Regions from separate parts of the Homo sapiens genome. Here regions 2, 3 and 4 are each reported to be linked to region 1. Evidence: microRNA targets listed by miRTarBase, many of them from high-throughput screens and not tested one by one. Region 1 holds a microRNA gene; each other region holds the end of a gene's coding sequence.
The links. The annotated mature microRNA hsa-miR-192-5p reads CUGACCUAUGAAUUGACAGCC and lies in region 1 at 4,766-4,786, opposite strand. An mRNA with a match to its seed (bases 2 to 7 or 8) in the 3' UTR can be bound and repressed. Matches are read on the target gene's strand: a 7mer-m8 pairs with bases 2 to 8, a 7mer-A1 pairs with bases 2 to 7 and ends in A, and an 8mer does both.

Region 2: miRTarBase lists ZNF85 as a target of hsa-miR-192-5p. The part of its 3' UTR that is shown has no 7-base or 8-base seed match.
Region 3: the mRNA of ATXN7 is a reported target of hsa-miR-192-5p. Seed matches in the 3' UTR shown: 7mer-m8 at 5,734-5,740.
Region 4: miRTarBase lists SLC68A1 as a target of hsa-miR-192-5p. The part of its 3' UTR that is shown has no 7-base or 8-base seed match.

What each region holds. Positions count from the first base shown.
Region 1 is chr11:64,886,438-64,893,556 of GRCh38, forward strand. MIR192 (microRNA 192) reads right to left here and starts at 4,809; the gene lies at 4,700-4,809. MIR194-2HG (MIR194-2 host gene) reads right to left here and starts at 7,012. Exons shown (of 3, transcript NR_133640.1): 1 at 6,974-7,012; 2 at 6,153-6,389; 3 at 2,021-2,903. It overlaps MIR194-2 (microRNA 194-2), which reads right to left and starts at 5,002; the gene lies at 4,918-5,002. RefSeq lists an enhancer at 955-1,525 and a silencer at 1,359-1,718.
Region 2 is chr19:20,949,644-20,956,762 of GRCh38, forward strand. It overlaps ZNF85 (zinc finger protein 85), which reads left to right. Exons shown (of 4, transcript NM_003429.5): 4 at 1-1,054. The coding sequence ends at 659. Among named protein-coding and RNA genes, the nearest start is that of ZNF85, 30 kb to the left of the region's middle.
Region 3 is chr3:63,998,525-64,005,643 of GRCh38, reverse strand. It overlaps ATXN7 (ataxin 7), which reads right to left. Exons shown (of 13, transcript NM_001377405.1): 13 at 2,182-6,194. The coding sequence ends at 6,177. PSMD6-AS2 (PSMD6 antisense RNA 2) reads right to left here and starts at 1,622. Exons shown (of 3, transcript NR_038286.1): 1 at 1-1,622. RefSeq lists an enhancer at 4,699-5,200.
Region 4 is chr10:102,474,656-102,481,774 of GRCh38, forward strand. SLC68A1 (solute carrier family 68 member 1) reads left to right here. Exons shown (of 10, transcript NM_024789.4): 10 at 1,067-2,390. The coding sequence ends at 1,329. It overlaps ACTR1A (actin related protein 1A), which reads right to left. Exons shown (of 11, transcript NM_005736.4): 10 at 6,477-6,517; 11 at 4,574-6,310. The coding sequence ends at 6,208. Among named protein-coding and RNA genes, the nearest start is that of SLC68A1, 17 kb to the left of the region's middle.

The DNA of each region.
Region 1 (7,119 bases):
AGATCACCTGAGGTCGGGAGTTCGAGAACACCCTGACCAACATGGAGAAACCCCGTCTCTACTAAAAATACAAAAATTAGCCAGGTGTGGTGGCGCATGCCTGTAATCCCAGCTACTCGGGAGGCTGAGGCAGGAGAATTGCTTGAACCTGGGAGGCGGAGGTTGCAGTGAGCGCTATTGCACTCCAGCCTGGGCAATAAGAGAGAAACTCCGTCTCAAAAAATATATATATATGTGTATATATATATATATAAATATGTATATATATGTATATATATATATAAATATGTGTATATATATGTATATATATATAAATATGTGTATATATATATATGTATATATATATAAATATGTGTATATATATGTATATATATAAATATGTGTATATATATGTATATATATAAATATGTGTATATATATGTATATATATAAATATGTGTATATATATATAATTGCAAAGTGTTAACTGTCAATGAATCAAAATAAACAGTATATGGATGTTGTTCGTACTTTTCTTGCAACTTTTCTGAAGCTGTCATCATTGTCAAAAAGAAAAACAGAAAGACAGCCGGGCACGGTGGCTCACGCCTGTAATCTCAGAACTTTGAGAGGCCGAGGTGGGCAGATCCCCTGGGATTAGGAGCTCAAGACCAGCCTGGCCAACATGGTGAAACCCCATCTCTACTAAAATACAAAAATTAGCTGGGCATGGTGGTGGGTGCCTGTAATCCCCGCTACTCGGGAGGCTGAGGCGGGAGAATCGTTTGAACCCGGGAGGCAGAGCTTGCAGTGAGCTGAGATCAAGCCACTGCATTCCTGGGCAACAGAATGAGACTCCGTCTCAAAAAAAAAAAGAAAAACAAAATCAAAAAAAGGCCTGTACCCAGCTGTCCTTTATTAGGCACACCATGTGGCCTGGTCCAGTGTTAGGTCCACCACTCCATGACCTGACAGCCCCTGCTGGAGAAGCACCCTGCAGTAGAATCTGTGCATTACAATACTCATTATAATCCCAACAGTGCTCATAATAACAGCGCTCATAATAACCCCAAGTGTTCTCTTCACTATACAGCAGTGAACAAGAGTGAAGAAGCTTCGGCTCCATCAACTGCATGAGACTCAGCCAGACACGGCACCGTGATTCCATTTACATTAATAACAAGAAAGCCAGACAAAATGCTCGCAGACTGTTTGGGAAAGTGTACGGGGTAGTAAATCCCAGAGAAAGGAGAGGAAGTGATTACCTTAACACTCAGAACTGTGCTGACCATGGGCGGGGGGGACCTGGAAGGGCATATTTGGGGGCTCTGCAGGTTGTTACATGGGGACTCATTGTGAATTCTATGAATATACATTATACAGTGATGTTTTATACACACCACAGCGGGAAGAGCCCCACCAGGGCCACCTTGGGTAAGGCAGTGCGCGCCTGGGACCCGCAACTGTGTGTAGGACGCTGGCACCTGGGCTGTGCCCTAGGCCCAGGACAGTGTCCTGGCCAGGCCAGGCGCAGTTCTAGGCGGCCCGGGGAAGGCGAACCCAGGGGCTGCTCCCCCAGGCCTTGGGAGCCGCGCGGTGGGGAGGGTTGGCCCCGCCCCGCTTGGGAGGGGTGCCCGGGGCGCCCCCTAGTGGTGGCCACCGGGAGTAAGCCTTGCAGAAGAGGAAGCTGTCCCCGCCCGCCCCGCGCCTCCGTCCGGTTTCTGCATCTTTGCCCCTGGCATTCCTTCCTCCTCCAGTGATCACGACCTGTTTCTGGGGTTCACCTCAGCAAACGCCGACCTCACACTCACCTCTCCCAGGGAGGCTTTACTCCTCCCCGCCTGGGCCTTCTCTCTCTGAGGCTGGCGTACGGTCAATCTGCACAACCTCTCAGGGCCTCTGTCAGCGTAGCGTTTCACACACGTGTGGTGTGGACGATGGGACAAAGACAATACTACTGAGGCCTCCCACCGCCAGCTCTGTGCTGACCGCCCCACTGTGTCTAGGCTCCCTCCCTAAGCAACTTTGCTCATGCACAAGGTCAGTCCTTCTGTGTGCATTTATTAAGTGCCTCCTTTGAGTCTGAGGCTACAGGAAAAAAGTCAGTGGCCGCCACTCCTGGGGGCTTTCAGGCTGGTGGGGGAAATAGCCCGGTGTGGGTGATGGGGCATGATGGGGGCGCTAACATCCCAGCCACAGAGCATCCAGGGAGCCAGTGAGTGGGGTAATGGGGGGCGGGGCGGGGGGCCAGGCAGGTGTCCGCGAGGGAGTGACCCTTGGGCAGGTCTTGAGGAGTTCTGAGAGGGGTTGGAGGTGAGACCCAGGCCAGGGAAATGTGCATGGGCCCAGGGCCTGCTGGGTAAAGGACACAGGTCAGTGGGCTCAAGGAGCTGGGGGAGGGTGCTGGATCCGCCTTGCTCATGCATTGGAACAGGTCTCCAATAGCCCTCGCAGGCCTTTGTGGGATCGCAGTGCTCTGCAGAGGCAGATGCAGGAGGACCCCCAGGGCAGGGTGGCTGCTGTCTGCTCCCCTTTCACCCTATGCCAGTGCTCTGAGTCTGAGGCCTGACAGCCCCAAGAGGGTTAGAGTCCAGGGCCCTACCATCCAGCCCATGTATCCTGAACACCTACTATGCTGGTGGGTGGGGGAAGCAGCCAGGGAGGATGAGTAAGTCATGGACCTTGCCCTCAAGGAGTCTGAAACTAGCACAGGATTAGATAAGCACACAGGGCTCCTTAACTCTGTAGGGAATGAGATAAGGGTGGCGGGAGAGGCCCACGAAGCCGGGGTGTGGGCAGAGAGGGGAGCAGCGCCTGCAGAGTCATGGGATGGTCTGCAGGGAGGGGTTGCTGAGCTGGGCCACGGCAGGGGCCAATCGGGGCCCAGGGATTCAGAGCAGCCAGGACAGTGTGAGCAGAGCTGCCTGTGGGAAGGGGAGAGAGACAGTGTCTTAGGGGCCAGATGTTTGTTGGCTGCCTACAGTCCCCAGGAGAAGGTCCAACTTGCTCTGTGACTTCAGCAAATGTGCACCCTCTCTGAGCCTGTGTCCTCCTGTCCCAAACAGGTTCATGATGGATGCCAGGAGGACCAGGTCCTGGATGTGCGTGCCCAGCAGACAGAAAGGGCTCAATAGCCAACGCCTGTTATTAAGCAATTTGACATTTATTCCTAGGTCTCTATTTCCCATTTTACAAATTTTATTTTGTAGTACCAGAAACCTTTTTATTCAAATGAAAAATTCTGACAGGGCACAGTGGCTCATGCCTGTAATCCCAGCAGTTTGGGGGGCTGAGGCAGGACTGCTTGAGGCCAGGAATTTGAGACCAGCCTGGGCAACATGGTGAAACCCCATCTCTACGAAAAATACAAAAATTAACCAGGCATGGTGGCACGTGCCTGTAGTCACAGCTATTTGGGAGGCTGAGATGGGAGGACTGTGTGAGCCCTGGCAGGTGGAGGCTGCAGCAAGCTGTGATTGTACCACTGCGCTCCAGCCTGGGTGACAAAGCGAGCAAGACCCTGTCTCAAAAAAAAAAAAAAAAAAAAAGGAAAATTTCCTCAGAACCCCGTTGTATAAGAAACAGGTGGGGCTGGGCGCGGTGGCTCACACCTATAATCCCGGCACTCTGGGAGGCCGAGGTGGGCAGATTATCTGAGGTCAGGAGTTCGAGACCAGCCTGGCCAACATGGTGAAACCCAGTCTCTACTAAAAACACAAAAATTAGCTGGGCATGGTGGTGCATGCCTGTAATCTCAGCTATTTGGGAGGCTGAGGCAGGAGAATCGCTTGAACCCAGGAGGCAGAGGTTGCAGTGAGCTGAGATCATGCCAGGAGGGGAGGCTTCCTCCTGGGAGGAAGCCTGTTGCATTCCAGCCTGGGCAACAGAGCAAGACTCTGTCTCAAAACAAACAAACAAACACCACAAAGAAATAGGTGGAAATGAGGCTGTTGTGGGAGGCGGGACAGGGGTGGGGTCAGCTGTCCTGTCCTGGGTTGGCTGCTCTTCCTCTACCAGCAGCTGGGGTCCTGGGCCCTCTTAGGAATCCTAGGGGCTGGAGAAGCTGCTCCACCAACCACAGGGCTGTGCTCCAGGGAGATGAGACTGGCAAAGGAGGGGAGAGTAGGAAGCAGATGGGGAGGCTGGCTCAGGGCCCCATCCTGGGTGGGGGGGCTCCAGCACAAACACTGGGCCTAGAGCACTCAGCCCCCCTTGGCCACACTGCATGTCGGTGGGTGCTTCCTCAGGGTGCAAGACAGAGGCTCAGGATTGGTTCAGCAAACATTTATTGGGCACGCGCCTGGGCTGGGAACTGAGCTCACAGATGGGGAGAGGAGCGAGACATAAGCAGAAACCAGCACCGGGGCTCCGAGAGGGCAGTGCTCTGCGGCAGCACTGTGTGGGGGTGCCCAGGTGGGGACTTAGAAGCTTCAATAAGGCCTTCTGGAGGCAGCAAATGCTTGGACAGAGCTTGAAAGGGTTAGTAAGAGTGAGCCTGGCAAATAAGCTAGGAAGAGTATTGCAGCCCAAGGGAACAGCATGGGCAAAGCATAGAGGTGCCACAGGGCAGGCAGGGCAGGGGCAGGACTGAAGCTGTTCAGGCTCATTCACGGGGAATGAGACAGAGGGAGGTGGGACCATGAGTGCTGCACTGGGGTCGCAGGATCTCTGCTGACTGCTGGACACCCCCGGCCCTCCCCTATCCCTGCAGGTCCTGGTGGCTGGCATTGAGGCGAACATACCTGTGACCTATGGAATTGGCAGCCAGAGGGGAGACGAGAGCACTGGCTGTCAATTCATAGGTCAGAGCCCTGTGCACTCGGTCTCGGCAGCCCACCGACAGCCCTCCACTACCCGCCACCATCTGGCCTGGGAGCGTCGCCACGGTAGTCCTGGCTGGTCTGCTGGCCAGCACCTGCCTCTCCTTCTTCGTGGGTACTGGCCCTCGCCCCAGATAACAGCAGCCCCACTGGAACCAGTGGGCACTTCCACATGGAGTTGCTGTTACAGGGGGCGGGAACCAATTGGAGACCGGGGCCCTGCCTGGCGTCCGCCTTCGGCAGGGCTCTGGAGAGTGTCCCATGCCCACTCACCTGGGCTCCCCAGTCTTCGTGGCCCCAGGTCCATGGTCTTTTCACCGAGGCTTCTTATCATCCGGGGCCCACACCTGGCGCCCCGTGTGCTGCCAGCACTCCTTCCTGGGCAAAGTCCAGGCTCAACCCCAAATCGGCCTCATAAAGCCGGGAGCGGCTCGGATTTACAACTCCTGGGCAGCCTTTGCCCGCTCTGATGACCCCACGCCCTCTGTCCCCAAGTTATTTTGTTTCCTTGTTTCTTTCCCAACCAGAGCTGGGCCTCAGTTTCAGGTTTGGCCACTGTCACCTCTGCCCTTTGCCCACCCTCCCTGCTGCAGCCATGGGGCAGAGAGACAGCAAGGGACAGCTGGCACTTGTCAGTCCCCAGGGACCTCCCAGTGCCTGATTTCATGAGGATGGCCTCGTATGGGAAGCTGAAGATGAGACTAAGAAGAAGTGTGGGGGGCTGTGTGGGGGAGGGCACAGAAAGAGGGATAGTGAGGCAGAGGGGCTGAGAGAGGAAGAGAAGAGTAAGGCCGAGGATGGCGGTGCACACCTGGCATCCCAGCACTTTGGGAGACCAAGGTGGGAGGATCTCTTGAGCCCAGGAGTGCAAGACCAGCCTGGGCAACACAGTGAGACCCCATCTCTACAAAAAATAAAAAATTAGCCTGGTGTGGTGATGCATGCCTGTGGTCCCAGCTACTCAAGAGGCTGAGGCGGGGGATCACTTGAGCCTGGGAGGTCGAGGCTCCAGTGAGCTGGGATTGTGCCACTGCACTCCAGCCTCAGTGACAAAGAAAGACCCTGTCTCAAATAAAAATAAGAGGAGCAGGTAGAGAACTAGAAAGGAACAGAGAAAACAAACAGGGATAGTGGATGACGAGGTGTAGGAAGGGGGACGACAGGGAACTGGAAAAGATGTAGATACACAAACCTGCCGCAGAACATGAGGAACAGGCTGTGAGCAGTGGCTCGCCTGGAAGGACGCTTAGGACCTCAGTGGCCTGGAAGACAGCAGGGGCCTGGGAGCTGGGTGACCTTGAGCAAGTAGCGTAACCTCTCTGAACCACTGTCCATATGTCAATCAGGACTTACGAGGCCACCCTGCACGCTGGGCTGGCCTGGTGGGAAGCATCCGCCCTGGGACCCTTGGGTCTCTCTCCGCTGTGGGGAGAGGAAGCAGCTGCTGGCCAGGGTCCCTGAGTGAGCCCAGGGCTCTGTGAGGCAGAGCTTCCTCTTGCAAAGCGTGTTCTCGTCCCTCCCAGACAGGTTCCGGTGACAGGTGCCAGTCCTGCAGAGACCCAGCAGGCATTTTGGGAGACTCCAAAGCTTCTGGAGAGAAAGGGGAGCTTTTAGAGTAGACTTGGGCCCTGCCCCCTTTGCCAGTGGTGCATACAGGCCTAGAGAGACAGAGGGGGCCGCCCAAGGTCACAGAGCAGGGCCCCAGGGCCTGTGCTGCCCCAACAACCTTCCCGAAGTGGCGTCCCCCCTTCTCAGGATGCAGTCAGGGTGGGATGGGGGATCCCTGGGCTGGAATCCTTCTGCCTGGGGGGACAGACCTGCGAAGGAAGACACCGTAGCTGGTGGCTGGCCCTCCACTCAGCCTGGCGGCCCTTCCCACAGAGGCCTGGGCGAGACCAGCCTCCTGCAGCGTGGTGTCCAAGTGCCCTGGCCTGGCAGAGACAGCGCCCGATCAGGAATCCTGGCTCCACAGCTCTGAGCGCTGATGCTAAGGCCCCCTTATCCCACAGTGGAAACCAAGGCACAGAGAGGAAGGGGCTCGTCCCGGCCACCCCATGGCTGTCCAGGTCCCTTTCTTCCTCAGGATTGGCCACCCTTCAGAGAGGTGCCTGGGTTCAGGAGCCTCCTAGGACAGGGAGGGCGGCAGGGGTCCTACCACTCAGGAAGCCTCTTACCTGAGTGCCGGGCTGGCCTTCGGGGCACAAGGAGGAAGTGGGGACACCCTGGGCCCAGGGCCTTTTGAGCCGTTGACCCAGCCCCTGGTGGTGGTTAATGATTATCCCACCACCGTCAATACTGATCACAAGTGCGGTTCGAAGGG
Region 2 (7,119 bases), not on the chromosome of region 1:
AAGCCTTTAATCATTTCTCACACCTTACTACACATAAGATAATTCATACTGGAGAGAAACCTTACAAATGTAAAGAATGTGGTAAAGCTTTTAAACACTCTTCAACCCTTACTAAACATAAGATAATTCATACTGGAGAGAAGCCTTACAAATGTAAAGAATGTGAAAAAGCTTTTAACCAATCCTCAAAACTTACTGAACATAAGAAAATTCATACTGGAGAGAAACCCTATGAATGTGAAAAATGTGGCAAAGCTTTTAACCAGTCCTCAAATCTTACTAGACATAAGAAAAGTCATACAGAAGAGAAACCTTACAAATGTGAAGAATGTGGCAAAGGTTTTAAATGGCCCTCAACCCTTACTATCCATAAGATAATTCATACTGGAGAGAAACCATACAAATGTGAAGAATGTGGCAAAGCTTTTAACCAATCCTCAAAACTTACCAAACATAAGAAAATTCATACTGGAGAGAAACCCTACACATGTGAAGAATGTGGCAAAGCCTTTAACCAGTCCTCAAACCTTACTAAACATAAGAGAATTCATACTGGAGAAAAACCTTACAAATGTGAAGAATGTGACAAAGCTTTTAAATGGTCCTCAGTCCTTACTAAACATAAGATAATTCATACCGGAGAAAAATTACAAATATGAAAATTATGGCAAAGCTTTAATCAATTTACAAGTCTTACTAAACATAAGAAAATTTATACTGGAGAGAAACTACTAACCTGAAAGATGTGACAATAATTTTGACAACACCTCAGACTTATAAAAGTAATCATACTGGTGAGAAATTCTAAAAATGTGAAGACTATGGCAAAGTCTTTAAATGGTTGTCACACTTTAGGTAAGATAATTCATATTGGAACAAACTACAAGTGCAAACAATGTGGCAAAACTTAATTTATGCTCACACCTTACTGCACAGAAAAGAATTTTTAGTTGAGAAAAAGTATACAAATATAAAGAATGTGGAAAAGCCGTTAATATCTGCTCACATCTTACTCAGCATCAGAAAGTACTTAATAAAAGCATTATAAATGGAATTACTGTCAAAAGCATTCAGAAAATATAAGCCTTTAATGTGAAAAAGAGTAACCATTTTGAAGACAAACATTGCAAATTTAAAGAGGGTTGTAGTACCTTTAATTGTATCACAAATCTTATTGTACAGATTTTGTACTAGAGGAAACCCCTGAAGCAGTTGCTTAAATTTTGTTTAAAATCAGATTTTTTTTTTTTTCTTTTTGAGACGGAGTTTCGCTCTTGTTACCGAGGCTGGAGTGCAATGGCGCATTCTCGGCTCGCCACAACCTCTGCCTCCCGGGTTCAACCGATTTTCTTGCTTCAGCCTCCTGAGTAACTGGGATTACAGGCATGTGCCACCACGCCTGGATAATTTTGTATTTTTGGAAGAGACAGGGTTTCTCCATGTTGTTCAGGCTGGTCTCAAACTCCTGACCTCAGGTGATCCACCTGCCTCAGCCTGCCAAAGTGCTGGGATTAGAGGCATGAGCCACCACACCTGGCCAACATCAGAGGATTTATATTTGAGAAAAACCCTGCAAATGTAACAAATTTTGAAAAACTTTTTCAAAAACTACAGCTTAAAAAGCAGCAGAGGATTCATACTAAAATATATTTTTGCAGATGCAGTAGATATAAAAATATATTTAATCCAAAGTTAAGTTTATGTAAATATCAGAGGATTCACAGTAGAAATATCTAAGGTGCTGGCACTTCAGACACCACACTAAATCAGAGTGCTGAGTATAGAAAATAATCCAAAACTAAATTTGGTGGATTAATTATTTGTATATAACTTTAAAAGAAGTAGAACTTTTTTTGCAGAGTTTTAATTACATTCAAAGTATACTTTTTTCCTTAAAAAAGTTAGGTTTTTTTGAAAAGAAAATAATCATGTCATTCAACTTTCAAATTACTTCATGCTCTTTCTTCTTCATTGCTATTATATTCACATGTGAAAGCATGTGATCAGTGGTTGCTACATCAAAGATAGGAGATTTTTTTTTCTTAGGTCATTATTTATGACCTTTTCTATTAAAGAATAAGAACATTAGGCTGGGCGCAGGGCTCATACGTATAATCCCAGCACTTTGGGAAGCTGAGACAGGCAGATCATGAGGTCAGGAGTTTGAGACCAGCCTGGCCAATATGGTGAAACCCCATCTATTAAAAACTACAAAAATTAGCTGTCCACTGTGGCACGCACCTGTAACCCCAGCTACTCGGGAAGCTGAGGCAGGAGAATCACTTGAACCCAAAAGGCAGAGGTTGCAGTGAGCCGAGGTCGCACCACTCCACACTAGCCTGGGCAACAGAGCAGGACTCTATCTCAAAAAAAAAAAAGTATACTATTCTTTTTTTTTCTTTATTTATTTTATTTTTTATTTTTTTATTGATCATTCTTGGGTGTTTCTCGCAGAGGGGGATTTGGCAGGGTCATAGGACAATAGTGGAGGGAAGGTCAGCAGATAAACAAGTGAACAAAGGTCTCTGGTTTTCCTAGGCAGAGGACCCTGCGGCCTTCCGCAGTGTTTGTGTCCCTGGGTACTTGAGATTAGGGAGTGGTGATGACTCTTAACGAGCATGCTGCCTTCAAGCATCTGTTTAACAAAGCACATCTTGCACCGCCCTTAATCCATTTAACCCTGAGTGGACACAGCACATGTTTCAGAGAGCACAGGGTTGGGGGTAAGGTCATAGATCAACAGCATCCCAAGGCAGAAGAATTTTTCTTAGTACAGAACAAAATGAAGTCTCCCATGTCTACTTCTTTCTACATAGACACAGCAACAATCTGATTTCTCTATCTTTTCCCCACCTTTCCCCCTTTTCTATTCGACAAAACCGCCATCGTCATCATGGCCCGTTCTCAATGAGCTGTTGCGTACACCTCCCAGACAGGGTGGCGGCCGGGCAGAGGGGCTCCTCACTTCCCAGAAGGGGCGGCTGGGCAGAGGCGCCCCCCCACCCAACTTCCTGGACGGGGCGGCGGCCAGGCGGAGGCGGGCCCCCCACCTCCCTCCCGGACGGGGCGGCTGCCGGGCGGAGACACTCCTCACTTCCCAGACGGGGTGGCTGCCGGGCGGAGGGGCTCCTCACTTCTCAGACGGGGCGGCCGGGCAGAGACGCTCCTCACCTCCCAGACGGGGCCGCGGCCGGGCAGAGGCACTCCCTGCATCTCCGACGATGGGCGGCCGGGCAGAGACGCTCCTCACTTCCTAGACGGGATGGCGGCTGGGAAGAGGCGCTCCTCACTTCCCAGACTGGGCAGCTGAGCAGAGGGGCTCCTTACATCCCAGACGATGGGCGGCCAGGCAGAGCCGCGCCTCACTTCCCAGACGGGGTGGCAGCCAGGCAGAGGCTGCAATCTCGGCACTTTGGGAGGCCAAGGCAGGCGGCTGGGAGGTGGAGGTTGTAGCGAGCCGAGATCACGCCACTGCACTCCAGCCTGGGCAACATTGAGCACTGAGTGAACGAGACTCCGTCTGCAATCCTGGCACCTTGGGAGGCCGAGGCTGGCGGATCACTCGCGGTTAGGAGCTGGAGACCAGCCCAGCCAACACAGCGAAACCCCGTCTCCACCAAAAAAATACGAAAACCAGTCAGGCGTGGCAGCGCACGCCTTCAGTCGCAGGCACTCGGCAGGCTGAGGCAGGAGAATCAGGCAAGGAGGTTGCAGTGAGCCGAGATGGCAGCAGTACAGTCCAGCTTCGGCTCGGCATCAGAGGGAGACCGTGGAAAGAGAGGGAGAGGGAGACCGTGGGGAGAGGGAGAGGGAGAGGGAGAAGGAGAAGTACACTATTACGTATGCTCCAGCCTGGGTGACAGGGCGAGACTCCATCTCAAAAACAAAAAAGGAGCGCACCAGCATGGCACATGTATACATATGTAACTAACCTGCACAATGTGCACATGTACCCTAAAACTTAAAGTATAATAAAAAAAAAGAAAAAAATAACCATTGTACCACCAAAAAAAAAAAAAAGAATAAGAACATTAAAACGTAAGATGCATGATGAAAATCTAAGTGGTGGGGCTCTTTGTGGTTAACATAATATTGAGTGATATATGAGGTGGTTGTTTAGAGTAATATTCTTCTGCATTATAGTAAATGAAAAACATTTTTAATATTAGTTAAAATTAGTAATATATTATTTTACTAATTATATTTCTATGTAATAAAATGCAGTACGTTTTTAAATTTTCAGACTACATGTAAACTTAGTTTTATAATTAAACTTTTTTAAACATATTATGATCATTGTGCATTCAACGATGCGTTGTGATGCCACTAAGTTTAACCTATCTACCGTACTCAAGAATGTAGTTAAAAGATGGTTACAGTGTGCAGGTTGGTAACATAATGAACTAACATCTCTTTTGCCAGTGGCTTTAAACTGCAAATAGGTTAAAGAATATTGTTCTTGTAGGTTAAATTTTTATTCTTTTTTTCTTATATGAACTTATTTTTAAAAATTTTTGTGAGTACATAGTATGTGTATATATTTATACCATATATAGAATATTTTGATACAGGCATATAATATGTAACAATCACATCAGGGTAAGTGAAGTATCCATCACCTCCAGCATTACCCTTTGTATTACAAACCTATTCTACACATTTAGTTCTTTTGAAATGTGCAATTGTTATTGGTTACAGTAACCAATTTGCATGGAATGTCTATTTCCATCTGGCCACTTTGGCAAGTGGCAAGATTTTGGTCATGATTTTGTTTTATGGTCATAATAAGAATTGTATAGAAGTATTAATAAAATCCATACATTTCTGAATTCTGAATAAACATTTAAAAATTTGTTAATATTTTTCTTTAAACATGTGGTCTTACTGCCTGCAAACACATACAGACTCTTAATTTTTATTTACATAGATGTAAATATACACATATATTACTCTAAAGATAAACCTTAAGGGTAAGAAAATTATAAAGTATGTGTGTTTTTGTGAATATGAATTTGTACCTATATTCAGAAGAAAAGAGCAATATTGGCACAAAACAAATCATCTTAATAAGGTAACTAATTGGCTGTGTGCAGTGGCTCACGCCTGTAATCGCATCACTTTGGGAGGCTGAGGCGGGTGGATCACCTGAGGTCAGGAGTTCGAGACCAGCCTGACCAATATGGTGAAACCCCATCTCTACTAAAAATACAAAAATTACCTGGGTGTGGTGGTGTGCACCTCTAGTCCCAGTTACTCAGGAGACTGAGACAAGAGAATTGCTTGAACCCAGGATTTGGAGGTTGCAGTGAACTGAGATTATGCCACTGCACTCCAGCCTGGGTGAAAGAGTAAGACTCATCTCAAAAAAATAATAAGGTAACTAGTTTACTAGAAAACTGAATACCTCAAAAATGCTGAAAACAAATGTATACTGTCTGCTTTGTGTTAAATTTATTACTGTAATATCTTATGGTTTATAGTTCAGAATCTTCCCATGCAAATATTTTGTTTTGACTTGCCTGATACTCATGCTGGACCTATAATTTTCTTTTTTTTATAATTTTTTTTATAGTTTCTGAGGCATTATGTGAGCTTGTCAGGGATTATAATGCTTTTATAAAATTTAGTAGTGCACACAAAATAATATTTATATGTAATTCCAAAATTAGTCTATCAAGTTATATTTTATTTTCTTAGAACATTTCATTTGTTCTTTTAATTGGAGAACTCTTTAAACCTGCTTTAGTTGTTGTTCTTTTCACTTTTTATAATTGAAATAACTATATTTATTTATTGAGCCAATTTTTTTTTCAGGTAAATACTAAGGATGCTTTATAAGTCATGAGGATGTTTTTATATATAAATATAGCAAACAAACATGAGAGTGCTTGCTGTGTAACAAATGCTGCATAACAAGCTATAAATATTCCTGCTGAAGTTAGTTTGTAACTTCAAGTCAGAGATGGAAAATATCAATGGTGAAAAAATAATATTGATTTTTCATGTTAAAAAGACACTTTTTCCAGGCTACAAAACTAACTCTTGCTGAATTTGAAGAGAAATTCTTCTTCCTTTATTTTCTAAGTATCTTTTGTTTTATTATGTGTATTCCAGCTATGTATGCATCACAGCCCTTCTCCTTCTTTTTCAGTATTATATCTATGGTTTTCTCATTGTTGTCTTTATGCCATGTCATTTTACATGGTACTTTGTAGGTTTTGATGAGAAAGTTGGTATTTTTTTAATGTACTAAAAAATTAGTTTTAACTGGAGAGTTTGTCAATACAACTTTCAGATCAGTTAATTAAGATAAAAGGCATTCAGTATCCACAGGTGAGAGGAATAAGTCAGTTAGTTTTCTTTTTTTCTGCTTGTAAAAGAAAAAAAATCTTACACAAAGTGTGGCAAATATTTGCTAAAAAATATATCTCAGAAATTAAATTTTTAAGAAAGCTAATGGTGAGTGAAATTTTTTAAATTTAATTTTCTATGATATAGCACAACTTAACGTTTCCGTGCAGAATCTTCTATTTTTAAGTGTGAATGTTAAAGTTTGTAAAATAATAAAATGACCTCTGTGGATTTAAAATTTGGAATAATATTTCTTTTTTATATTGATATTACAATTTGAAAAAATCTCTCAGTCTTATATAATTTTTTTAGTGGGTGAAGTTCAGTCTAGAGTTTCTATTCTTTGTCACATAACTGTAGCCAACTTATTGATCATTTTCTCTGTAAAACTTGGAGATCATGACAGCTTTTGGATTGAAACATATCCTATTAGTTTGCTCACAAACTTGTTTACTGTGTTCGAAGAGTGGCCAGTCATGAGACCAAAGCAACAACTGCCCTTTTAGTGTCTTTTATGCAGTTATTATCTGTAATAAATAAATATTTATTCTGTAAAACATGAATTTTGAAGTGTGTATACATTGTCAAATGTTTAATTCTAGGTAATTAATGCTTTACCTCACATAGTTAACATTTTTTGTGGTGAGAGCACGTGACATAGTCTTAGCACTTTTCAAAAATACAAATACATTATTAGGAACTATAGCCACCATGCTGTAGAAAAAATCTTTTGAAATTATTTCTCCTATTCAAGTATAATTATGTATT
Region 3 (7,119 bases), not on the chromosome of region 1:
AACATAATAATAAGCCAAATCGAATAGCTACTTAATTTTCCCAGGTAAACTCCATCTACCCTTATGACCTCACTGATGATCTAAAACTGAAAGACAACTCTCCATCTTTATTTTCCAGCTCAAACCTCCCTCCTAAAGTCCAACCAGCCTGTACAGCCAGCTGGGCACTAAACCAGAATTTCCCACCAGCAGCTCAAATCTATCGTTATGTCTTTTTCCTTCTCTGTTACCATATCGCACATTTCACTTAAAGCTCAATTGGTTTGGCCAAGCTAGAAACCTGAAGTCTTCTTAGACTCACTCTTCCCTTTAATGTTGAACAGAGTTAGACCTCAAGGCTTGTTGGTTCTACTTTTTAAAGATTTCTGAAATCAGTATCACTTATCCTCACAGTCAGCCTTCGTTTGGAAACTTAATAGCTCTTACCTGGATTACAACAGCTTTGTAACTTATTTTTGTCCCAAGGTTCTCACCTGTTGATTCTGTCTTCCATTGTTATTGGAGGGCCATAGGTGGCAGAGATGTTTTTTCCACAAAGTATTAAATTATAAGTGATTCTCCCCTTCCCCCTGGAGACTTTTTCTTTGGCTGATAGCCTCACTCTCCCTTACCTCCTAAGAGATATTCTGGTCCATGGTCTTTGGATGTAGAAAATGAGGATAACAAGTGCCAAGAATTACAGCCTTACAAGGTGAAATACTACTTTAATTAACTTCCATTAACAACAGGAGCAAGAACTTCTTACAGAAAGAGGAGACTAAGAAAGGAGTGAGAAGGGAGAGGAACTTAAGAGTTGATTTAGGGGAGTGCTTTTTGTTAGGACTGGGGACAGGGGCAGGTAAAGACAGATCTTTGAAGCAAAAGAGAGTGAGAATGCAAGACATGGGGAAAGAGACTTAAGTGCTCCTTTGCTTTTCCACAGTTTTCAGTACAGATTTGAATGGCTTTGACTTTTGGCAGCTGCACAGTGCTAGGACTGGACCATGAAATATCTCTGGGCTCTGACAATTACATTTGGGTTAATCTAAGCCTGATCCCATGTGTTCCTGGAAGAGAAGCCCCATGACATTCAAAGTCCTTGACAATCTGACACCAGCTTTTCTAACCCTATAAGGCCCTTCCATCCAGCAAACTTCCTGCAGAATTATTCTCTATCCCTCACATGTTCATACCCATGCTCGACGCATTTGCTCTCTCTGCCTAGAATCTTACTCTTGTCTGCCTTTCTGCCTGGTTAAATCCCACATACGCCAAGATCCAACACTGCTAAACCCCTTTCCTTGAGTTGGGATCATCTTGTTATGCAGGGCCGGGATACCTGCAAGGGAATGGAATTAAAAAGGTTAAGAGATTGAGCAGTTGAACCTTTTCTTGGGAGGTTTGAGGACAAGCCATAGTGAAAGGATTTACCTACAGAGAGCACCTCATTATTAGATTTGTGGAAAGTACTGAGTGGATGGTTGACTCAAGTAAGGAGGGAATGGGAAGTCCACAGGGCAGTAGGAACTGAAGCCAACATGACTCTTTCATATCAGGTATGGACATTCTTGCTAACACACAGCGGTTCCTCCTCTTATTTTAAGCAACAAAAATAATTTATCAGAATGGTTTATTTGCAAACAGTAAAAATGTCTGGATTTCTAGAGGTAAATGATTATGCTGTGTTCCAAATAATACTAAAATGCACTTGTATTGCCAGTAAGGGAGGTATGTAAAAGAAAGGAAGAGATTAGACCGGGTCTGGATAAAAAGCTTATCTTAAACCAAAACTACATGTCATCAAATTTGCACCTAAGTACAAATAGAATGTGTTTCTCAATCCATCAACTCCCTCGTTTCTTTCACAAACATGCAAGGCCAGAATACAGTAATGTTCACTGTTTACACAGTTACTAATTTATCCAAAGCAAAGCTTTGTGCCCCCAGATGGAAACATCCCCAGGCCTTAGAAGTATTTAGCTTATATAAGAGGAAGGCTAAATTGAAGGGGCTTCACAAGGGTGTTCCATGCCAAAAGTGATGAAAAGTCAGAGTAGACTGAAAGGGTTTAGTATCACAACGAGGCAGAAACGTACAATATTTCATGCAGCCAACCTTATTTATTGAGAAGTCCTAATTTTATTGCCCGTTTAGTAACATGTTTGTTCCACAAGCTAATTTCTTATAAAGCAAAGCACAACCTTTTCTTATAAATAGTATAAATTATTTTATTTACAGAAACTTGTTACAAAACAAATAGACTATATATTTCTTCTCTTTTAAATATCCAAAGTAATTTTCTATCCCTTGACATTTGTTCATGTTCTATACAGCAGCCAACACAAAGTCCAGCTGAGATGCTCTTGATTATGTGTACAAATTATCAAACTATTCACACGTTTTTAACACAGGAGATTGCTTTTATAACCAAGCTCAAAAAAAAAAAAAAAAAAAAAAAAGCAAAATGCTTTCAAGGCCCTACATTCACACTGACAGTATGTAGTGCTCATTTAAATTATCTGAAAATGTAAAATGTTTTGCACAAAATGTAAAAGTGATTATTTTCTGCTAAACAAACTTTTAAGAATATTTTTTCAAAGCCCAATCGCCCCAAACCCCCTGGACAGAATGAGCGACATTAAGAAATTCCTTGGCAACAGAACTCTTGCAGGAAGACAGCTGCCCTTATAAGTTACATTTTTCAAATTATACATTTTTTTCAATGTTCTCAGAGGTACTTCTTTGTATTATATTTTTGGAATACAAAATATTTTAAATATTTTAAATTGTATTTCATGAGTGAATAACAAAACGGACACATCGTGTAAGTTGCTGGCTGACAAAAAGATCTGTAACCCTTGGTGCCACCAGGCAATCCATCACCAATTGAATTACTATGAACCAAGAGGTCTTAATTTTAAAATACCTTATAAAATTACCAGCATTGGTGGTTTTCAACTCCGCCCCTAAAATTTTAGAAACAATATTTAGGTGGAAAAAGCAAACTCCAAAAGTTCAACTGAACATTCAAGTCTTTTTAAAGAGATTCTGTCTAAGCTTAAAACTAGTTTCAGGCACTTTCAGTTTTTTCCATTAGTTTTAAACCACATCACATAGTAACATACATGTGCTGAGTATACACACACACGCACAGGCACACACACACGCAGTCACATACTCCCACACATAAAATACTAACAAAAGAAAAGCAGTGTGTCACTTAGTTACATGTAGTCTATCGGGAAACCAGGCAACCAGGAAGAAGCAATGCCCACTTCATCTGTATGAATCCACTCCCGAGACACTAAAAGGGACAAAGACTTTTCACAGAACAGAGGCATCCCTTAAAACTGTAAAGGAGGCAGGTTCTAGAACTATTGGCTTGGCAGTGAACCACTTCAAATTATAAAAAGGTATTTACTTTTATTAATTAATAAATAAATACTAGATGATCTCAATTGTACCAAAACAGGATATCAGAAAAAAAGACCTGTGCAAAAATACATATTTAAATATGTACAATTCATTTTTAACAAAATATGTCTTCTGAAATAGGGATACTTCCATATTTATAATAGAACAAGAAATTCCAAAATAAAGATACAAAAGTAGGTTTTGTATAATTCTTTGTTCATCATTGCAGCACTTTTTTTTTTTTTTTGTAGGTTAAGAAAACTGCAGGAGTTGTCATGAAATTCTATTGGAAAGAATATAAAAATTATCTTGGTTTTAAATTGATACCAAAGTCTGTCTAGAAACAACCCAACCACTGCAAATTTGGTTTTTGCAAGTTAATTTAATTCAAAAAAATACTTGTACTCCCGTGTTTTAAATGGTCTTAATTATTCATCACCATAAAAAGTAGTTTAGGAGAAAATAAAATATTTGAACAACAGTCTAAAATTTAATAGCACTGTTTAGAATAGGTCTGTTTGTGGCAGACAGAATCCAAAATGGCTAATTTCCTAATCCCGATGCTCTGTGTATTACCGGGAGAAATAATGAAATTCATTTAAAACCTCAGTCTAAGAAATCAAATGTTCAATACTTGCTAATCTAAATATCTACATTAGTCTGAATCAACTTGTTATTGTGGATCCTATTCACATCTTTCGGAACAACATGATCGATCTGTAAATTCCATTGCTAAAGGCAACTTTATTTATAACCATCAAGTCCTCTTGGCTCTGAAAATAAATTCTACCCATACCCCATTGCACTTGTCACCAAGGAATCAACTAGGTACGTTCTGATTCCCTCTCACCTCTCTCTTCCCCGACTGGGATGGAAACCAGACTGATTTCTCCCAACTATGCCAAACTGGCCCATCCATGCCCTCTCCTTACTAAGCTCTCCTGTAGTATCATTTTAAAAACATTTACTGATTGATTGCATAATAATTGAACAAGATACTGTTCTCTCCTTCCTTTAAAAAAATCAGTATTTTACATCAATTTATAGCTAAAGTATCTGCATAAAGTTTTTGTTTTCTTACATAATAAGAATAATTCTGTAGCAATTCACATTATTAGGCTGGTAACCAAGTTTATTCATTCTACCTGTTGTTGACTTGAAATTCCCTGAAACTGAAGTTTGAAACCCAAGAACTGTAGGAAAAAAAGAATGTACTGACTGGCTCTCATCAGGCCCTGGCCAGGGCAACGATCAGCGCCTTGGAAATTTTACCCTGTGTTCGGCAACTTCGTGTGTTCTTCTAAGCAACAGTGCCTGTTACTCGTGTCAGGAGCCTGTAGTGGTGGAAGCACCCATTTAAAGGCTCCGGCTCGTCCCGGAATTCAATGACACCTTCTCCAAGCAATGCTGTTTTAACATATTAAGGTCTTTCTTTAGGGGTGGGGGGTGGGGTACTAGAAAAAATATCCTAGAGGGCTCCAAAACTCTCAGGAAGATGGCTGGTATAATCCCAAGAAAGGAGGGTGTGTGTCAGGGCAATCCTATACATGCATCACAAAAGACCTTCAGGTCAGGACTTACATTCTCTCCAACTCCCTTTCCTTGGTGTCTGCTCTCGTCCCCAACCACATCCAAATAAACATCTGAAGTGGCATGAAGGGGAGTGCATACAAAAACACACAATGCCAGAAGTGCTTGAAGCAGAAATCTACACTTAGTCCCAGGACAGTATCCAAAGAGAAAAACAAGGGTAATGTAGAGAGTGCCTTGGAAACATTTAAGTGTATCTAATAATGTCACTTTAAAAGGTGACTTTTAAAAATAGACCAGGTAGGACAACCAACCCAATCTGCCATACTGTTTACTATGAAAACTTAAAAGGATTAAGAAAATTTCATCTCTTTGGAAATCTTGAAAAAAGTTTTTTCTCCCTATAGTGATTTTAACTTCCTCACTCCCACCCTCCCCCGACCCAATTTGGCCTTCCTTTCTCAAAACTAGCTTGCATTTTCTTTCTTCTTAAAAAAAAAAATCACACAGAATTGCTTTTGTATCATGAAAAGTAAGCCTCCAAAATGATTTATACTTGCTGTCTGGGCATCAAAAATTTCAAACCAGTTTGTAAGTTAGAAACTTCTGACAGCTTCTTTTCCCAAATTACTCTCAAAAGGCTGGGCTATTTTGTCATGGTGTCTTGGGCTAACATCTATATTTCATTCCTGGAACATTGCTATCAAAATCTAAAGCCTAATTCCCTTCTTCAGAGGGTTGCTCGGGATGCAGCCCTGTGTTCTCTGGAAGGTTTCTGGTCTCCAGTTAAGGTGCCTAACTGCTGGAGAGTGACCTACAGATGACAGTGTTAAAAAAAAATGGTAGTAAAAGGAAGGAGGGAGAAAGGTCTACAGTAACGCTCTTGCCAAAACATTCTTTTGCCCAGCCAATCTACTTGAAGAGTGGCTCTGTGATATACTGCAAGTTAAAAAACAAAACAAAAACAAAAACTTCTCACAGATTGGTAGCAAGCAGTTCAGACCACTTTAACACTGATAAAAGCAATTCGGTGGCTGAACTTGATCCAGTGTCCTTTATGAGTACTCACTGCTAGAGACATAGCTTCAGGGAAATCCTCGTTAAAACAACAGCCCGGCAGGTTTCTACCCTTGAGGCCCACAGGAGGTTGGGAAAACAGACTCAAAGGCATCGTGGAGTCCAGAGTGCTGAGTGGAGGTGTAACTTGTCCTCAAAAGTGTCCGCATTATTCCTCCCCGTGCTATTTTCAGCTGTCAGGGACGTGCCTTTGGCTTTCAAAAAAGAGGGGGTGGGGAAATAATGAAATGGTAAGTAAGCGTTTGTACACTGCACTCTATTGATTCTAAACAAGAATATTCCAAAGGCTGCACGCTACTAAAGTCTCCATTGACTGAGTGACACCAGGAACAGTCAGCTATAGATTTTGTTCTTAGCTTTCAAATGCCTTCACTACTACTGGGCACAATCATTGCAAAGATTCACTTCTAGCCAACTGGCTAGAAGAGTTGCAGGCCTGGGTTTCTAACTTAGAGAAAAGGCTCTTATGTTTGCCTTTTGGTTTTATTTACTGATTTTGTGTCCTTGAAGGTATTCCAGTGCTTTTGTGTCCTTGAAGGTATTCCAGGTTGTTAACTGAGAAGGGAACAAGGTCAAGGGCTAGCACACACAGGTGTGACAGTTCGCACTCAAGGCAGTGCCCATGCTGGGGAGGAGGAAACTCTGGCATTCACAGTGGGCTTTTACATCTTTGGTGGCACAGGCCATGAACAGACTCTTGGGGGTGCCTACCCAACCCCATCATCTCCTAGGCTTCCCAGCATGTCCCACTCTTCATCCCCTTGTTTAGAAAACTTCAACTAGCCCAGTTATTTTTGTTTTAATGGCAGCTCCACAAGGAACAGCAAGTAGAGGTCCCTACTTTTGTAACAGCAGCATTCTTTAAAGCATTTTGGGGTCACGAGTCCCTTTGAGATTCTTATGAAAGCTATACGATAAATGAACAAAGACATAAAAATGTGCAATACTTCTTGGGGTTCAATGATCCTTTGATCTCTAAGCAAGCACCCCTGCTCTTGCCCCAGGATTTGTGTAGCATAATAAAAAGTATTCCTCTGCACAGAGAAAATCTCTCTCAAACACAAACTTAAGTGGAAACTGATTTTAACTGATTTTAAGGAAAAAGCCCAAAGTTAGGCT
Region 4 (7,119 bases), not on the chromosome of region 1:
TATTTACTTTTTGAGATAGGGTCTCCCTGTCACCCAGGCTGGAGTGCAGTGGCACGATCTTGGCTCACTGCAGCCTCGACCTCCCAGGTTCAAGTGAGCCTGCCACCTAGCCTCCCAAGTAGTTGGGACCACAGGCGTATGCCACCATGCCTGGGTAACTTTTTGTATTTTATGTAGAGATGGGGTTTTGCCAGGTTGCCCAGGCTGGTCTCAAACTCCTGAGCTCAGGTGATCCACCCACCTTGGCCTCCCAAAGTGCTGGGATTACAGGCATGAGCCACCACGCCCGGCCAGGGAGGGTTTTAAACAGGGAAGTGACGTAGTGTGATTGACTTTTTAACAAAATTCACTCTGGGCTGGGTGAGGTGGCTCACACCTGTAATCCCAGCACTTTGGGAGGCTGAGGAGGGCAGATCACCTGAGGTCAGGAGTTTGAGACCAGCCTGGTCAACATATAGTGAAACCCCCGCCTCTACTAAAAAATACAAAAATTAGCTGGGTGTGGTGGCGCATGCCTGTAGCCCCAGCTATTTGGGAAGCTGAGGCAGGAGAATCGCTTGAAACTGGGAGGCCGAGGTTGCAGTGAGTGGAGATCGTGCTACTTCACTCCAGCCTAGGTGACAGAGCGAGACTCCCTCTTTCCAAAAAAAAAAAAGTTCACTCTGGCTGCCATATGGACAGCAGATCATAGGGAGGCCAGAATGGGGACAGCAGGGACATCTTTGGGAGACTGGCAGAGGCCGTGGAGACTTGGGCCAGGGTGGTGGCAGGTGGGATACGTTTTGGAGTTGGGGGGAGATGAAGGATTGGGTGTTGGGGAGTGATGGCGTGAAACCAACCAGGGAACTGAGGAGGACTTTGAGGTTTTGGGCCTGAGTTATTGGGTGGATGGTGGTGCCCGTCACTGAGATGGGAAGAGTAGGAGAGGAGTGGGTTTGGAGGAATCAGGAGTTGTGGTCTGGACACGTCCATGTGGTGTCTGAGATGTCACACCATAGACTTGGAGGGCACCAAGGCTTGGAGGACAGTGGGCTGACCATGGTCTTTCTGTGCTCTCTTGTCCTAGGTCATGACCTCTTCCAGCAGTCCCTCATAACCCCTGTGGGGAGTGCCCATCCCTGGCCAGAGCCCCCAGCTCCAGCCCCTGCACAGGCCCCGACGCTCCGCCAGGGCTGCTTCTACCTGCTGGTGCTGGTGCCCATCACCTGTGCTCTGCTGCAGCTCTTCACCTGGTCCCAGTTCACGCTGCATGGGAGACGCCTGCACATGGTCAAGGCCCAGCGCCAGAACCTGTCACAGGCCCAAACCCTGGATGTTAAGATGGTGTGAGAGCTGTGGCAAGGTCACCCCACTGAGGATGCTGCTGGCAGCCTGGGGAAGGAGCCAGTTTTTTTTGGTTTTTTTTTTAAGGATTTCATAGTTTTTTTTTTTTTTTTTTGGAGCTGTTGCCCAAAAAAATGGATCTGTTGCAGTGGTGCAATCTGGGCTCACTGAAACCACCACCCAGGTTCAAGCAATTATCCTGCCTCAGCCTCCCGAGTAGGTGGGATTATAGGAGCGTGCCACCATGCCCGGCTACTTTTTGTATTTTTAGTAGAGACAGGGTTTCATCATGTTGGCCAGGCTAGTCTCAAACCCCTGACCTTAGGTGATCAGCCCGCCTCGGCCTCCCAGAGTGCTGGGATTACAGGCGTGAGCCACTGTGGCCAACCTAATTTTTGTATTATTTAGTAGAGACAGGGTTTCACCACATTGGCCAGGCTGGTCTCGAACTCCTGACCTCAAGTGATCTGCCTGCCTTGGTCTCCCAAAGTGCTGGGAATACAGGCATGAGCCACCGCACTCGGCCAGGAGCTAGTTTTACCAGCACCCTGCTCCACTGCCTTCCTCTAGTGCAGCCTGGAAGACATGGCAGCGGGTAGCTCCTGGGGCTGAGCCAGAAGCATCACTGCAGTGAAAGTCTCTGCTTACCTGTCTGGCTCAGCTTGGGCAAGGGCTGGGCCATATGTGCTCAGGGACGTGCTTCTCTTGTAAGGCAGGAGGACAGAAGAGGACCAAGAAGGGAGGGGGCTGCCCTGTGGTGCACACAGGCCTGCCATGGGGCGTGGGAGCCCATCCCGCTGCCTGACTGGAGCTGGCCGCTGTGGTGGACTCAGGAACCACTTTTAATACTGCAACTGCTCCCTTTTGCCCAGTCAGGGAAAGCTGACTGTAAGTCCCACCTCCCACTCCGTCCACCCTTCTAGTGGTTTCTCTGAGAGGTTTCTCTGCTTCAGCTGTGCTTGAAGTGGCATGCCTCCTCTGCTGCAGGGCTCCCCCACCCCCACACGGCCTCTAAAGATGTTTATTTCCTTATAGACTGATTAAAGTCAGCCATTCTTTTTCCTCAAGTCTGTGCTGTGTGAGTGAGTGGTGGGTTGCTGGGGTTGAGAACCAGGATTCCTTACTGACTAGAAAAAGCCCCTGAGAGCATTTTTCTGAATAAGAGTGGTAGGTAGGCCGGGCGCAGTGGCTCATGCCTGTAATCCCAGCACTTTGGGAAGCCGAGGTGGGTGGATCACCTGAGGTCTGGAGTTTGAGACCAGCCTGAGCCAACATGGCAAAACCCCATCTCTACTAAAAATACAAAAATTAGCCAGGTGTAGTGGTGTGTGCCTGTAATCCCAGCTACTTGGGAGGCTGGGGCAGGAGAATCGCTTGAACCCAGGAGGAGGAGGTTGCATTGATCGCGCCACTGCATGCACTCCAACCTGGGCGACAGAATGAGACTCCATCTCAAAGAAAAAAAAAACCCACCTTGGTGGGTTACCAAGATGCCAGGGAGAAAAACATAGATTGGTAACTGCATAGGCACTCGGGCCCAAAATGACCATTAGGCCTCAGTGCATTTCCCATGTATCACTGCTGGACATGGTAGTCAAAGAGAGAGGAGCCTCTTTTAGGCCCGAGGTTCTCAGCCTTGGGGTCCCCTGGGGAACTTAAAAAATACTGACATCTCAGTTCCATTCCTTGGGATTCTGACTTAATGTGTCTGGGGTATGGCCTGGGCAGTAGGATTTTGAACATCTCTGTAGGTGATTTTATCATGCAGCTGGCACTGAAAACCATGACTCTCAGCCACCATTTCTCAACCTTGGCACTAGCACTGGAGATATTTGGGGCCAGATTGTTCTCTGTTGTAGACATTTAGCACCCCCCACCCCACCCCACACACACACCAGTTGCGACAAACAAATACATCTCCAGGCATTGCCAGATGTGTCCTGGGAGGCAAAATTGGTTCCAATTGGGAACCACTGCTCTAGGCCAATGGTTTTTTACAGGCTGCATGGTGATTAAAAATGTAGGCTGTAGGTTCTATGGCCTGGGTTTACATTCGGGATTAAGAAAGGCCAGCGCTGGGCACGGTGGCTCACACCTGTAATCCCAGCACTTTGGGAGGCCGAGGCAGGCAGATCACCTGAGGTCAGAAGTTCGAGACTAGCTTGGCCAACATGGTCAAACCCCATCTTTATTAAAAATATGAAAATTAGCTGGGCACAGTGGCAGGCACCTGTAATCCCAGATACTTGGGAGGCTGAGGCAGGAGAATTGCTTGAACCCAGGAGGCAGAGGTTGCAGTGAGCGGAGATTGAGATTGTGCCTCTGTACTCTAGCCTGGTGACAAAGTGAGACATGATCTCAAAAAAAAAAAAAAAAAAAAAAAAAGGCAGAACTTTGGAAAATTGCTTAATCTTTCTGTGGCTCCAAATCCTTATCTGTAAAATGGACAACAAAAGCACGTATATTTTGTAAGGTTATTGGGAAGATTAAATAGTTACCATTTGGCAAAGACCTGGCAATTTTCCTCCCAAGTGCAGGTTTTAAACGGAGAAGTGATTAATCAGGATATCTGAGTATGGGCCCTGGAAACTGCACTGTAATAAGCTCCTGGCCTTCTTCTTTTTTTTTTTTTTTTTTTTGAGACAGAGTCTTACTCTGTCGCCCAGGCTGGTGCGATCTCAGCTCACTGCAACCTCTACTGCCCGGGTTCAAGCGATTCTCCTGCGTCAGCCTCCTGAGTAGCTGGGATTACAGGCGCCTGCCACCACGCCCGGCTAATTTTTGTAGTTTTTAGTAGAGACGGGATCTCACCATCTTGGCCAGGCTGGTCTTGAACTCCTGACCTTATGATGCACTTGCCTTGGCCTCCCAAAGTGCTGGGATTACAGGTGTGGCGTGAGCCACCGTGCCCGGCCAAGCTCCTGGCCTTCTTATTCACTTGACAGTTTTGAGAATCTTTGATTTCAGGGATGTTGAGAGCTGCTCCTGTCATCTGGAGTTGAGTCTCACCCATGGGCTACAGTGTACACAGGAGTGGGACCTTCTGTTCTTGAACTTAGGCTGTGGTGTGATCACCCTTTTCTCTGCATCCACCTGACAGGCTGGGACTTGGGCTATGCTCTGGACAAGGCTGGCTGGTGCAATGATGCCCTCTAGAGGATGGATCAGGCCCAGTCACCACCTCAGATTCAGTGCCTGCTGCTCTTCCTCTTTCCACTTGGCCCTGGTGACAGACAGATAGAGGCCCAGCTGACGTGTCTATCGGAACGACTTTATTTCAGTACACTGGGCCCCACCAGGCAATGTGGTTTGTGCGAGGCTGTGCGAGGGACAGGCTTGGGCTAAGAGAAGGGAGGTGAGTTGGTTAAGCGCACTGCAGTCCGCGGGGCGCTACGTTGCTTTCACACATACCTGCTGCTGTGGCCCACACCTGGCAGGGGCCTTTGGTCATAGGACGGCGTGGGGGAGAATACTGTGTGAAGTCTGGGATTGGGGTGGGTCTTGGTGTCACAGGTGAGGGTGCCGGTGAAGACAGGCTGGCCCCAGCTTTGCACCATCTAGGCTGAAGGCCTTTGGACCACTCCTAGGAGTCAGGCCTGGCTCCATTAGCTCCTGGCACTCTGGTCTGGCCCACTCCCTCCTTAACCAAGCAGGTCCAAGGTCAAGAATGGCACAAGATCAGCCCAGAGGGGGCCTTCCCACCTCTACAACCTAGTCCCCTGGTCAGCTACAGTGGCAAAAGGCAACTTGGTAAATTGCAGCTTTCTCCAGTCTTAAGGGCACTGGCTCTCCAACACCCCTCCCTTGCTTAGGGGCCTCTGCCAAAGAAAAATTTTACCTCCTGTTTCAGAAAATCTAACCAGCAACCAGCCTGTTGATTCCAGGGCAGTGAGCAAGAGGAAAAGGGAGAAAGAGCCTGGTGGGAGTGTCTTTGAGTGTAGCTTCCAATCTCAAATGGTCCTGGAACCTGTGGACACTGTCAGCTCACCATCAGCTGGGAGAGGTGGGGCCCTGGAGGCTAAGCTTAGGTGCTGTAAACATTAGTGTAGCAAGGCAGGAGGCAGCAAGCTCCCTCTCTCCAGCCCCTAACTGAACAAACACTTCAATAAATAAAACGGTTTGAAGATGGCATTGCAACAAGAACAGATGGAAAGCGAGGTCCTGGAACCAGCAGGTGCCTTAAACTCTCCCAAGGCCCCCGAAAGGGGACTGGGCTGGGAACATTAACTCTGCAGCCATTCAGAGTGAGGACTGCTCCTGCCCTCCTCCAGTGGCCGGTGTGGTCCTGTTCCCTGGTGAACATGAGGGCCTCCTGCTCTCTCCTGACTCCAGTCTCTGTAATAGCTCTTGGGGTGCTTTTCCAGCCTCCCAAACCAAAATGGCAACAAAACCAGACAGAACTCAACCCCAGTCCCAGTCCTCAGTGTGCAGTCAGGAGGCATCGATAGTGGAGGCAGCAGCTGCCTGGGGCCTCAGGGCACCCTGGGGGTGGGGGTGAGGGTGGGGCCAGCCCAGCCTAGGATGGTCAGCAGCAAGGTCTCCCGGGGGATGGCTTACCTCCCTCTGTCTCCCTGTGGTAGTAAACGGAGTCCCCCACAGCCAGCCAGAGGCCACCTGAGGAGGGAGCACAGCCTCTGCCAGCGCTCTTCCCTGTCAGGAGCCAGTTAGTGGTCAACCCCAGGCCTCAGGCCATCACCACTGCAGGTAGTTCATCGTCCTTTCTGGGCCCAGGGTCCCAGGGCCACACGGCACTCGCATGTGCACACACACTCATATCCACACACGCACTCACACACAGGCAGTTCCTCGCAAACACTCCGACTCAAGAAAGCGAGTTTTAAAGTGGAGTTAACTTCAGAGAGAGGTGAAGATGATGTCCCGACATTAGAAGGTTTTTCTGTGGATGGATCGGGCACCGTCTTCCTCATATTCCTTTTTGGAGACCCACATCTTCTTAAAGGTGTCCAGGGAGGCAAGGATGGAGCCCCTGGAGGGAGGAAACCCAGAGGAACTGTGTGAGAGAGAAGTGGCTGTGTGTGGAGCCTACCAGTCCCCTGGGGCCAAACCAAATCAGGCTTTTCTTTAGAGGGTGCTGAGGGGTTATCAGTGCCATCACTTCCTGTTCTGTTCTTACTCCTGGAAGAGCTACTCACCCAATCCACGTGGAATACAGTCTCTCCTGAGGTGCAGATATCTGCAAAGGTGGGGGAAAGAGGAATCTGAGACTTCCAGCCCTCCCGCTCCCTTTCCCTACAATGCTCCTCTTTCTGCCCATGGCAGGGGATACATTTTACACAAGCCTGAAGCTCTGGCCTCTCTGGAGGGCACTGTGGCCAGCCTGCCACTCATCTGGGGAAGCAGGTTTCCAGTCCCCACAGGTCCCAGGGAAGCTGGGACTATTGGGGGGGGCAGGGAGAAGCAGACTCCATGGCAAGAACTGTACTCCTTCCTTTAGGATCCCCGCTCTCCTCAGACAGCCAACCTCCTTCACCTATCACTAAGGTGTCAGACTGTGTGACAGGGGAGCCACCTGGGCAGGGGGCACAGCAACAGTAAGTCAGTCTCCTCTTAAGATTATAGTTTCCCTGAAAGATCACGCAGGGGGCCCTCTACCTAGTACCCTGCCTCATCTGGGTATTAGAACTGCCTGCCTTTGGTGTGAAGAGGGAGAATGAGAACTCAGCCTCCCTGTGGCTGACCTAGACCTCAGGGTCAGTGTACAGGCTGGGAACCTGGCGCTGCTTGTAGAGCCATGGCTGCTTGAAGAGCTTGGGCAAAGCTAGAGGGAAGCTACGC